Regions from separate parts of the Homo sapiens genome. Here all the other regions are linked to region 2. Evidence: fine-mapped expression QTL. A gene starts in region 2. Each other region holds a variant in brackets. All regions are shown on one strand. Distances are from middle to middle. Region 1 overlaps RHBDD2 (rhomboid domain containing 2). Region 2 holds the start of STYXL1 (serine/threonine/tyrosine interacting like 1). Region 3 has its middle 2.9 kb from the start of HSPB1.

What was found. PIP is the estimated chance that this variant, and not a neighbour inherited with it, causes the effect. A credible set is the group of variants that fine-mapping cannot tell apart.
Region 1: its variant is the best candidate, but not a certain one, in a credible set for the expression of STYXL1 in esophagus muscle (GTEx, PIP 0.85).
Region 3: its variant is the best candidate, but not a certain one, in a credible set for the expression of STYXL1 in sigmoid colon (GTEx, PIP 0.77).

The regions. Positions count from the first base shown.
Region 1 is chr7:75,882,752-75,886,907 of GRCh38, forward strand. It overlaps RHBDD2 (rhomboid domain containing 2), which reads left to right. Exons shown (of 4, transcript NM_001040456.3): 3 at 947-1,097. Among named protein-coding and RNA genes, the nearest start is that of RHBDD2, 5.8 kb to the left of the region's middle. The variant C/A (reference allele first, on the strand shown) is at 2,012.
Region 2 is chr7:76,045,978-76,050,112 of GRCh38, forward strand. STYXL1 (serine/threonine/tyrosine interacting like 1) reads right to left here and starts at 2,023. Exons shown (of 9, transcript NM_001317785.2): 1 at 1,685-2,023. It overlaps MDH2 (malate dehydrogenase 2), which reads left to right and starts at 2,129. Exons shown (of 9, transcript NM_005918.4): 1 at 2,129-2,249. The coding sequence starts at 2,184. RefSeq lists enhancers at 1,496-2,278, 1,724-1,813, 1,924-2,003, 2,279-3,060 and a silencer at 2,254-2,413.
Region 3 is chr7:76,297,706-76,301,861 of GRCh38, forward strand. No RefSeq gene overlaps it. Among named protein-coding and RNA genes, the nearest start is that of HSPB1, 2.9 kb to the right of the region's middle. RefSeq lists a silencer at 1,707-2,001. The variant T/A (reference allele first, on the strand shown) is at 2,369.

The DNA.
Region 1 (4,156 bases), 160 kb before region 2:
TGTTCTGATAGGCGGTTAACTTACTTGAAGATTGGCTTGAAACTTGAGGTTTGTTTCTAAGCTCTTTTCGGGAGAGTCTAGCATAGCCTTTATTCAAAGGCTGAATCTTTGTGGCTGCCTAATCAGTGGTGGGTGACTTAGGTCAGACGACCAGGATACCACCAAGTTGCTGGGGATGGTGACAGGGTATGGAGGAAGCACAGCCAGAGAGGCCCACATGAAGCTCACATGGTCGCACTGAGGCAGGTGCCCTCTATTTGAGATAAAAGGACGAGGTGTTAGTCCCTCAGGATGATACTGGTACAGCCTCCTGCCTTATCCTGCTACACCAGCAGAGGCATGTCCTGGCTTCTGACTGACTGCAGTGGCTAGAAGGGTGCAAGTGGTGGCACACATGGGTGTAGGAGAAGGGACAGCATTAATACCCCCTGCTGCTGGGCGCATTCATTCCCGGTGAGGCACAGTGAGTAGAAACCTTTGGCTCTGGGGTCAGGCGCAGTGGCTCACGCCTGTAATACTAGCACTTTGGGAGGCTGAGGCAGGCAGATCACGAGGTCAGGAGTTTAAGACCAGCCTAGCCAATATGGTGAAACACTGTCTCTACTGAAAATACAAAAATTAGCTGGGTGTGGTGACGGGCACCTGTAGTCCCAGCTACTCTGGAGGCTGAGGCAGGAGAATGGTGTGATCTGGGAGGCGGAGCTTGCAGTGAGCCAAGATCACACCACTGCACTCCAGCCTGGGCTGCTAGAGTGAGACTCCATCTCAAAAAAAAAAACAAACCTTTGGCTCTGGGTTTCCCCTGAGCTGCAAACTCCAGCCAGAGTGTGCAGCGTGCTAAGCATGAAGGCTTCTGTAGAGTGAGTGGGAACCTGTGTTCTCCCCGGGGAGTGTTCGGCCCTCCTCCCTTTGCTGCCTCCAGTTTCACTTAACACGCCAACCTCAGATGGCCTCACCTACTGCTATTCCATCGACCTCTCAGAGCGAGTGGCACTGAAGCTCGATCAGACCTTCCCCTTCAGCCTGATGAGGAGGATATCCGTGTTCAAGTACGTCTCAGGGTCTTCAGCCGAGAGGAGGGCAGCCCAGAGCCGGAAGTAAGTGACAGAACTCTTAAGTGCTGTTAAATCTTTTTTAAAAAAAAAATTATTTTTTTTTTTTGAGACGGAGTCTCACTCTGTCACCCAGGCTGTAGTGCAGTGGCACAATCTCGGCTCACTGCAACCTCTGCTTCAGGTTCAAGTGATTCTTCTGCCTCAGTCTCCTCAGTGTCTGGGATTACAGGTGCCCACCACTACATCCAGCTAATTTTTTTGTATTTTTAGTAGAGATGGGGTTTCACCATGTTGGCCAGGCTGGTCTCGAACTCCTGACCTTGTGATTTACCTGCCTCGGCCTCCCAAAGTGCTGGGATTACAGGCGTGAGCCACTGCCCCCGGCCAAATGCTGTCAAATCTTATTCTGTTTTTTTATTCTTTTTTTTATTTGAGGACAGGGTCTTGCCCTGTTGCCCAGGCTGGATTGCAGTGGTATGATCATAGCCCGCTACAGCCTCACACTCGTGGACTCAAGTGATCCTCCCACCTCAGCCTCCCAAGTAACTGAGACTACAGGCACATACCATCATGCCTAGCTAACTTAAATTTTTTGTAGGGACAGGGTCTCCACTGTGTTACCAAGGCTGGTCTCAAACTCCTGGTCTCAATCCATCCTTCCTTGATTTCTCAAAGTACTGGGATTACAGGTGTGAGCCACTGAGCCTGGCCTAACCTTATTATTAAAGCAACTCCAGGGCATGCAGAGGGTGTGGCTGGTTTATTGCCGTAAGTGATAAAGAAATGAGGTGCGGCAGATTGGAAAATAATGCACAGATGTCTTCTGAGCATTCTGGATTCTGCACAACTGCTTCTGAAGTAGCAACAGCAGGAAAGGGAAGGCATTTGAGGACACTTAACATGTGATCCTGAGTGACTTGTAGATAGGCTGGGCAGGAGGGCCCCCATCTAATTGA[C/A]ATTAGACACATACCTGCTGCAGGTCAGCCTGGGCTGTGACACACAATAGCCTCGATAAGTGCAGATAGGGCTGGGTGCGATGGCTCACGCCTGTAATCCCAGCACTTTGGGAGGCCAAGGTGGGCAGATCATATAAGGTCAGGAATTTGAGACGAGCCTGGCCAACGTGATGAAACCCCATCTCTGCTAAAAATACAAAAATTATCCAAGCGTGGTGGTGGTTGCCTGTAATCCCAGCTACTCAGGAGGCTGAGGCAGGAGAATCACTCGAACCTGGGAGGTGGAGGTTGCAGTGCACCGAGATCACACCACAGCACTCCAGCCTGGTTGACAGAGCAAGACACTGTCTCCCAAGAAAAAAAAAAAAAAAAAGGTGCAGACAGTCCACACAGCCAACTAGGCTGCTTAGGAGGTGGCCCAGCCCAGGTTTTCTGGTGAGGTTTACTGTTTTCCAGTTGGCTGATTAACTCACAGATGGAAAGTGCTGGTAAGCCGCCAGAGCTTGTGTGGCCTGGCTGCTTCATTTTATAGAGGAGGCCCAAAGAAGACAAGGGTCTTTCTCACCCACTCTGTTTCCAGGTAACAGAGTCAGGAGAGGGGCCATCTGGAAGCACGTCCCCTGCTTAGGAGGCCACCTCCCTCCCTCTCCCCTGTTCCCAGTGCCTCCTGCCTCTGAGTTCTCCGCTGGTTTCTGTCCATGCTGAGACCTCACAGTGTAGGATTTTTTCTTTCCTTCAGTGGTCCTCCCCCCAAAAAAGGAGCTCGCTGGGAAAGGCGTGTTCATCCATTTTGTATTGCTATAAAGAAATACCTGAGCCTGGGTCATTTATAAGAAAAGAGGTTTATTTGGCTCATGGCTTCGTAGGCTACACTAGGATCATGGCACCGGCCTCAGGCAGCTTCCAATCATAGGGCAAGGGGAGGCGGCACCACACATTGAGAGAGGGAGGGAGGTGCTGGGCTCTTAAACACCCAGCTCTTACCTAAACTCAGAGGGAGAACTCATTACTACGGGGAAGAAGCCAAGCCACTCACGCAAGGTCTGCCCCCGTGACCCAGACGCCTCCCACTGAGCTCCACCTCTAGTGCTGGAACACTGGGAATCACGTTTCTTTTTTTTTGAAATGGAGTCTCACTCTGTGGCCCAGGCTGGAGTGCAGTGGCGTGATCTCAGCTCACTGCAACCTCCACCTCCTGGGTTCAAGTGATTCTCCTGTCTCAGCCTCCCAAGTACTTGGAATTATAGGCGCGTGCCACTATACCCGGCTAAAGATCCATTTCAGCACATGATTTGGAGCAGAGGAAACATCCAAAGTGTATCAGAAGGCAAGGTGCTTGGTCCTTGGCCCTTTTTGGCCCGCCACCAGCTGTGGAGTAAATTTTCCCCTGCACGCTGGCCTGGATGTGGGGTTTTTGTTGAATAGGAAGCTGCCCTTAGAGCTTCTTCCAAGAGGTGCTCCCAGCTGTCAACAGCTCAGAGCCCTTGGACTATTTTTCTAAAAGGCCAGGAGGGCTGCTGGGAAAACAGAAATGCGGACTCACCGCATTATTGCTTCAGGCAAGTAATTCCTGGGGTCTCAATGTGGGGGAGACTGTACATTTAGGACTAGGTGTTTTGTGGGTTTTAGTTGTTCTCATTGAATCTGGAGAACTGTCTGTCACCAAGGAATCCCCTCTGTAATAGCTGATGGTGGTCTCCAGCTGTATCTCACATACAAGAGCTCACTCTCCAAGACTGGCCCTGATGAGAAAGTTCTTCCATGCTGAAGGGCCGGGCGCGGTGGCTCACACCTGTAATCCCAGCACTTTGGGAGGCTGATGCGGGTGGATCACGAGATCAGGAGATCGAGACCATCCTGGCTAACACGGTGAAACCCCATCTCTACTAAAAATACAAAAAATTGGCCATGTGCGGTGGTGGGCACCTGTAGTCCCAGCTACTCGGGAGGCTGAGCCAGGAGAATGGTGTGAACCTGGGAGGTGGAGCTTGCAGTGAGCCGAGATCGCGCCACTGCACTCCAGCCTGGGCAAAAGAGCGAGACTCCGTCTCAAAAAAAAAAAAAAAGAGTTCTTCCATGCTGAATTGCAATCAGCCTCACAGACACTGCCACACCCAGTGCCAGGTCTGATCCTGCCTCACTGTG
Region 2 (4,135 bases):
TGCAGTCAGTGATAAGATAAACAAAGGACACTGCTTGCCCTAATGTCCCCACTCCAAAATAAATGATCTATTCACTGTCCCCTGAATACTGGCCTATGCTTATTTTTTCCCGCTAGGATTTTATTTGGCCTTTTTTCTCCTCCTTTCCTGTCTAAACATTTCCCATTGTTAAATGCTCAGGCCCTAGTGCCCCTCCTTTGAGAATTCTGATTCCAAGGCAAGGGATCTTTCCCTCCTCTGGAGTTGAATGTTCCATTGAGAAACACCTACTCTTCCAGCATGTCTCAGCTTATCTGCTGTGTGTGTGTGTGTGTGTGTGTGTGTGTGTGTGTGTGTGTGTGTGTGTGTGTGTGTGTGTGTGTGCGCGCGCGCGCGCGCGCGCTTTTGAGCCGGAGTTTAGCTCTTATCACCCAGGATGGAGTACAATGGCACAATCTTGGCTCACAGCAACCTCCACCTCCTGGGTTCAAGGGATTCTCCTGCCTCAGCCTCCTGAGTAGCTGGGACTACAGGCACACGCCACCATGCCCAGCCAATTTTTGTATATTTAGTAGAGATGGGGTTTCGCCACATTAGCCAGTCTGGTCTCAAACTCCTGACCTCAGGTGATCTGCCCGCCTTGACCTCCCAAAGTGCTGGGATTACAGGCATAAGCCACCACACCCGGCTTTTTTTTTTTTTTTTTTTGAGACAGAGTCTTTCTCCGTCGCCCAAGCTGGAGTACAGTGGGGTTATCTCGGCTCACTGCAACCTCCCTCCACCTCCCGGGTTCAAGCGATTCTCCTGCCTCAGCCTCCGGAGTAGTTGGGGCTACAGGTGTACACCACCACGCTGGGCTAATTTTTGTATTTTTAGTAGAGATGGGGTTTCACCATGTTAGCCAGGCTGGTCATGAACTCCTGGCCTCAAGTGATCGGCCCGCCTCAGCCTCCCAGAGTGCTGGGATTACAGGCATGAGCCACCTTGCCTGGGGGTGTTGTTTAATTTTAAAAATATGTATCAGGCCGGGCGCGGTGGCTCACGCCTGTAATCTCAGCACTTTGGGAGGCCGAGGCGGGTGGATCACGAGGTCAGGAGTTCGAGACCAGCCTGACCAACGTGGTGAAACCCCGTCTCTACTAAAAAAAAAATACAAAAAATTAGCCAGGTGTAGTGGTGCGCTAATCCCAGCTACTCAGGAGAATGAGGCAGGAGAACCACTTGAACCTGACAGGCAGAGGTTGCAGTGAGCCAAGATCGCGCCACTGCACTCCAGCCTGGGCTAGAGAGACTCCGTCTCAAAAAAATAAATAAATTCATACATTTAAGTAATAAACTCATTGTGAGCAAGGAATTCTACTCGACTTTCTGTCTGCGTAAACTCTACAAATCCACTTGGCCTCAGCCACAGTGTCTTTATTCGTAAAGCAGAAACAGTGGGACCGTCAGAGCACTGCCGGGCAGGCGAGAGAAGACAGGAACTGTATGACCACGGAAGTTGTTGTCCCTACAACCTATTTGCTCATCTGGAACACAGAATAGTGGTCCTCTAAAGCTTGCAGGGCTGGAGGTCGCCATTATCAGCAGTGGTGTCACTAAACCTGAACCCAAGGGTCTCTGCAACTTGGGAAACGACGGCCCGGATCTGAGGAGATGGCCCCTTCCTCCCACCCCGCCTAAGGACTCTCAGCCTCCCTGACCCTACCTTTCCGGAGCTCAGAGTCCCCTCTGGCCTCCAAGGGCAGAAGGAATGGGTTTGGCTGAGGTCGGGGGCTCGGGTCTGGGACGCGCTCCACCTCCCCGGCTGCGCGACTATGGCCAGGCTCCCTGTCGGAGCCTCTGCCTGGGGCCCCACCTGGAAAAATGGCTCCTCTAAGGCGCTTCCAGCCTAAAGCCCGTCCTCTTCCACCTCTTGGGTGCAGACTGGCCCTCCCACTCCGACCGCAGGTCCCCCACCGGCCACACAGACGGCTACGCTAGAACCCAGCCAAACACCGGGGTTGCCAGGATGGTCCCACAGCTTTCCTTTCCGACTCCCGGAAGTGGCCGTGATCTCACGAGATCCCGGAGGCGAGCGCGACCGGAAGTCCGGTCACTCTCGCGAGGCCCCAGAGAGCAGGCGCTGGGCAGTGTGGAGGTCGTTGGAGTCACTTCCCCGTCACCAGCTCCTGTGCCTGCCAGTCGGTGCCCCTCCCGCTCCAGCCATGCTCTCCGCCCTCGCCCGGCCTGCCAGCGCTGCTCTCCGCCGCAGCTTCAGCACCTCGGCCCAGGTAGGCCAGACGAGGGGCGGCCTGCAGGCGGAGGCCCCCCGGCCCGGGCCACGTGCGTCCCCGGTTCGCGGGCAGCTCTGACCCTCTCCAGGCCAGCCTGGACCGCAGGGATGCCCGGCACTGGCTGGAGACTGTGGCGCCCGGGGCAGGCCCTGACACTGGCCTGGAGGTGCGGGGGAGAAAGCCGGGGAAAAGGGGGCGAGGTAGTCCCGCTCCAGGGCCGGTCCATTTGTCAGGGTTCCCCCAGGTCTCCCAGATTTCCCAGAGGACCTGCTCTTGGCTTGCACGCCTTCAAGGTTGGGAAACCAGGGCTCTGCATCTGAAAGTAAACTTACGTTTTTTTCTGCAGCGTTCCATTGCTTTGACGTAGCTAATCTCCTTGCAGCATCCGTGTGAGTTGTGCGTGAATAAAAGAAATCGTATACTTCCTAATTCCATAGTATGGACAAACCGAGGCTAGAGAACTGGGCCAGGGTTACAGTCATTTGGCCAGAGGATTAGAATTCAGCGCTTCTGACCTGAAGACGGCTTCCTCTTAACCTTTTTGGAGGATCTCTCCTGCTGTGGGCGGACTGAGCCTGCCGCCAGGTGTCTTAACAGTGCTTGACTTGGCCCGCGACCACTTAAGCCTAGGAGCCTAGGCTATTTTTAGCCATCTTCTAGAATGGTGGTTCTTAAACTCTGCAGTGTGTCAGAATCACCAGAAAGCTAATAAAAAACAGACGTCTGGGTTCATTGAAGAAGCTTAAGACTGCGGGGGGGGGGGGGGGGGTCCGCATTTTTACCAGGTGAATCTAATTAAACCTAATTTTGAGAACCCAGGAGGTGCTCGCATTGCCTTTTAATTACGACGCCCAAGAGGGAGGTAATTTTAAAGGGGAATCCAAATTTATCATCGAAGTTCTCGAGTTTCCTGTACATCCAGTTCATTTGAAAAATAAATACAAATGCTCCTGGATTGATGGCTACTTCCCATACCCATCGCAAGTTGGTAATATCCTAAGTCAAAAGGCGAGTTTAACTTTGTGTATTTTCAACTTGCAATGGGTTCCCACAGGCAACCCCATTGTAAGTTGAATGTACCAAATGCTTTTGCGCTGCGGTGAAGTGGGGGCCCAGCTGTATACAGATAAGTACATTAAGTACCTGTGCTTGCCAACAACTATGCTGGGTGCTGCAGGGGATACCAAGATAAGTGAGAAGTGACACTTGATATGGGACAGGAATGAGTAAACTTAGGACAGGTGGAAGCGATGAAGGTCTTAGGGAATGAGTAAACTTAGGACAGGTGGAGGCGATGAAGGTCTTAGGGAATGAGTAAACAGGACAGGAGGGATGAGGTGTGGGGGAGGGGCAGCCAACCAAAGAGAGGACAGGGGTGTCCAGGGAGAGGTTGAGTTTTGGTAGGACCTTCAGATATCCGACATATTTATTGAGCTAGGTACTGGAAATACAGCGGTGAACAAAACACAGAAGTCCCTGCTCTCACGGAAATTACTAGATATTTTACTTATTGCCCCACTCATTATAAAGTATCTTAAAATAGTGATGAACATGCAAGAAAAATGGGGATTGTAGGGTGCTTGTGTTAGGGAAGAGGGTACCAATTTTATTTACTTTTTTTGATGCAGTGCCTCGCCCTGTCGACAGGCTGGAGTGCAGTGGCGTGATCTCGGTTCACTGCAGCCTCCACCTCCCAGGTTGGAGCGATTCTCCTGCCTCAGCCTCCCGAATAGCTGGGACTACAGGCGCGCACCACCGTGCCCAGCTAATTTTTGTGTTTTTAGTAGAGATGGGGTTTCACCATGTTGGCCAGGATGGACCTGACAGAGTCCCACTCTGTTGCCCAGGATGGAGTGCAGTGGCGCCATCTTGGCTCACTGCAA
Region 3 (4,156 bases), 250 kb after region 2:
GCCCTCCCTGGCTCCTGACCTCACCTCGACTTTATACAGCTGGGGATGGGTGGGGCTGGGAGCACTGGGGAGCAAAAACCTGGGGCTTTCTGATGCTGTCCCATGGGGTGTCAACCAGGAGCTCCCAAATGAGACCCACTGGGCTCATGACAATGACCCAGCCAGGGAGGTGAGGTAGAAGGCAGGGGTCCTGTCTGCCTCCCACCATTGGCTCCCGAGAGCCCCAGGAGTTCAGAGGCCTTTCCAGGAGTGATCTCAGATTCATGGTCCAGCCCCAGCTCTTCCCTGATGGGGAGCAGGTGGGTAAGACAGAAAGGCATCTAGGGCCGGTGGCTCACACCTGTAATCCCAGCACTCTGGGAGGCGAGGCAGGTGGATCACGAGGCCAGGAGATCAAGACCATCCTGACTAACACAGTGAAACCCTGTCTCTACTAAAAAAAAAAAAAAAACAATACAAAAAATTAGCCGGGCGTGGTGGTGGGCGCCTGTAGTCCCAGCTACTCTGGAGGCTGAGGCAGGAGAATGGCGTGAACCCGGGAGGCGGAGCTTGCAGTGAGCCAAGATCGCACCACTGCACTCCAGCCTGGGTGACAGAGTGAGACTCCGTCTCAAAAAAAAAAAGAAAGAAAGAAAGGCATCTAGGTCGGGCGCAGTGGCTCACGCCTGTGATCCCAGTGCTTTGGGAGGCCTAGGCAGAAAGATCTCTTGGGGCCAGGAGTTCAAGACTAGTCTGGGCAACATGGTGCGACACCTGTCTCTACAAAAAATTTAAAAATTAGCCAAGTGTGGTGGCACACATCTGTAGTCCCAGTGACTCAGGAGGCTGAAGCAGAAGAATCACTTGAGCCCAGGAGGTCAAGACTGCAATGAGCTATGATCACTCCACTGCACTCCAGCCTGGGCAACACAGCGAGACTCTGTCTCAACAAAAAAAAAAAAAAAAAAGGAGAGAGAGAAAGGCATTTATGAGCTCTCTCTCAAAAAGGAAACTGAGGCTCAGAGAAGGCATGAGGACTTGCTGCTTCCCCAGCTCATCAAGGTGAGTGGCCTGGAGTCTGCCCCGATTCTGGGCCTGGGCAGGGCAAGACTTCAGTGGCCTTGGCTCCCCATAGAAGTAGGAGGAGTGGAGCCTCAGTCCCAGGATAGGGACAGCAAGTACAGTGGGACAGAAGAAGTGGGAGGCCCTGGGTACTAGAGAGGCAGGAGGTTGGCTCTGAGAGCACTTTACCGGAGACAGCAGAAAGCCATTTAATCTCTGTGCACAGCAGTTTCCTTGTCTAAAAACCAGGGATAACAGGGCCGGGTGCGGTGGCTCACACCTGTAATCCCAGCACTTTGGGAGGCCGAGACAGGTGGCTGACTTGAGGTCAGGAGTTTGAGACCAACATGGCGAAACCCTGTTTCTACTAAAAATACAAAAATTAGCCGGGTGTGGTGGCTCATGCCTGTAATCCCAGCACTTTGGGAGGCCAAGGCAGGCGGCTCACTTGAGGTCAGGAGTTTGAGACCAACATGGCGAAACCCCGTTTCTACTAAAAATACAGAAATTAGCCGGGTATGGTGGCACATGCCTGTAATCCCAGCCACTTGGGAGTCTGAGGCAGGAGGATCGCTTGAACCCAGGAGGCGGAGGTTGCAGTGAGCTGAGATTGCGCCACTGCACTCCAGCCTGAGTGATAGAGTGAGACTCTGGCTCAAAAAAAAAAAAAAAAAAAAGACAAAAAAAAAAAAAACAACAACAACTAAAACAGGGACCTAAGTCAGGGGAGAAGGAAGGCTGGAATGGCCATGCCTACAAAGACAGGAAAGAGGGAATGTCAGGGTTGTGGCAGGAGCCTAGGGCAGCACCCTCCCTCCAAGCTGGGAGATAGGAGCCAGGATCCCATTGGTGTTTAGATGGATGAGGTAGGGTCAAGGGGCAAGCTCCAGGCTCTAAGCACTTCTGTGCAGACTCTACTACTTGGAGCTCCCCTCTCCCTCTGTGATGTGGGCATCAAAATCTGCAGAAAGGGAAACTGAGGCCTAGAGAAAGGAGGGGATTTGCCCAGAATGACACAGGAAGTCCAGACTAATTCAAGTTTGCGGCATTTGAGGTTCCTGGCCAGTGTTTCTTTTTCTTTTTTGTTTTTTCTTTTTTGTTTGAGACAGAGTCTCGTTCTGTCACCGAGGCTGGAGTGCAGTGGCGCGATCTCAGCTCCCCGCAACCTCTGCCTCCTGGAATGATCCTCGTGCCTCAGCTTCCCCAGTAGCCGGGATTACAGGCACCCATCACACCTGGCTAATTTTTTGTATTTTTGGCAGACACGGGGTTTCGGCATGTTGGCCAGGCTGGTCTTGAACTCCTGAACCCAGGCAATAAGTCTGCC[T/A]CAGACTCTCAAAGTGCTGGGATTACAGGTGGGAGCCACCACGCCCGGCCAACCAGTGCTTCTTAAGGAAAGATACATATAGTAGGAGATGTGACAGTAATCTTCCTCCTGGCCCCTCTCAGCACTGTGCCATGGAGGTTCTGATCTGGGCCAGCTGCGCTGTTAGGGGAAGGGGGAAAATGGCCAAACCCCATGTATTCTCCTTCCTTTTCCCTCTCTTCAATCCCAGGCAGGTAACAATAATTATGATGTACCAGGCTCCGGGCCAAAGTCATCACCTGCATTAGGTCACCAAATCCTCAGGCCAACCCATTACAGTCATGAGTCACTTAATAACAGACACATTCAACAAATTCCTTGTTAGGCAATTTCATCATTGTGGGAACATCTCAGAGTGGACTTACACAAACCTAGATGGTCTAGCCTACTACACACCTAAGCCATATGGTCTAGCCTACTGCTCCTAGGCTACAAACCTCTACAGCATATGACTGCACCAAATATTGAAGGCAGCTGCAACATGAGGGTAAGTATTAGTGTTTCTAAAGATAGAAGATGGCCAGGCGCGGTGGCTCACGCCTGTAATCCTAGCACTTTGGGAGGCCCAGGCGGGTGGATTACTTGAGGTCAGGAGTTCAAGACCAGCCTGGCGAACATGGTGAAACCCCATCTGTACTAAAAATACAAAAATTAGCCAGTGTCGCGGCACTTGCCTGTAGTCCCAGCTACTCAGGAGGCTGAGGCAGAAGAATCACTTGAACCTGGGAGGTAGAGGTTGGAGTGAGCCTAGATCAGGCCACTGCACTCCAGCCTGGGCGACAGAGGGAGACTCCATCTCAAAATAAATAAATAAATAAATAAATAAAACATAGAAGATGTACAGTAAAAACACGGTAATTGTTTTTGTTTGTTTGTTTTGAGACAGGGTCTTGTTCTGTCATGCGGACTGGAGTGCAGTGGCACCATCAGGCTCACTGCAGCCTCGACCTCCTTGGCTCAAGTGCTCCTCCCACCTCAGCCTCCTGAGTATCTGGGACTACAGGTCCACGCCACCATGCCTGGCTAATTTGTTCTGAATTTTAGTAGAGATGGGGTCTCACTGTGTTGCCCAGGCTTGTTCCAGCCTTCTGGCTTCAAGTAATCCTCCCACATCAGCCTCCCAAAGTGCTAAGATTACAGATGTCAGCCACTGCACCCAGCCAGTAATATAATTTTATGGGACCACCTTCATATTTGCTGTCCCTTGCTGACTTACACATCTTTATGCAATGCATGACTGTTACCATCATTATCATCTCTATTTTCCAGATGGGGAAACTGAGGCACAAAGAATCTAACTTGCACAAGTTCATCTGCTTAGTGATGGAACAAAGATGTGAATTCAGGCAGTCTGGCTTCAAAGTCCACACGCCTAACAACCACACCAGATTACTAGATTGCTTTTTTCTTTTTTCTTTTTTTTTTTTTGAGATGGAGTCTCACTCTGTCACCCAGGCTGGAGTACAGTGGTGAGATCTCGGCTCACTGCAACCTCTGCCTTCTGGGTTCAAGCAATTCTCCTGCCTCAGCCTCCCCAGCAGCTGCGATTACAGGCGCCCGCCACCACACCCAGCTAATTTTTGTATTTTTAGTAGAGATGGGGTTTCACCATGTTGGCCAGGCTGGTCTCAAACTCCTGACCTCTGGTGATCCTCCCACCTCGGTCTCCCAAAGTGCTGGGATTACAGGCGTGAGCCACCACGCCCAGCCCAGACTGCTTTATTTTTGTATTTGTATTTATTCATTTAC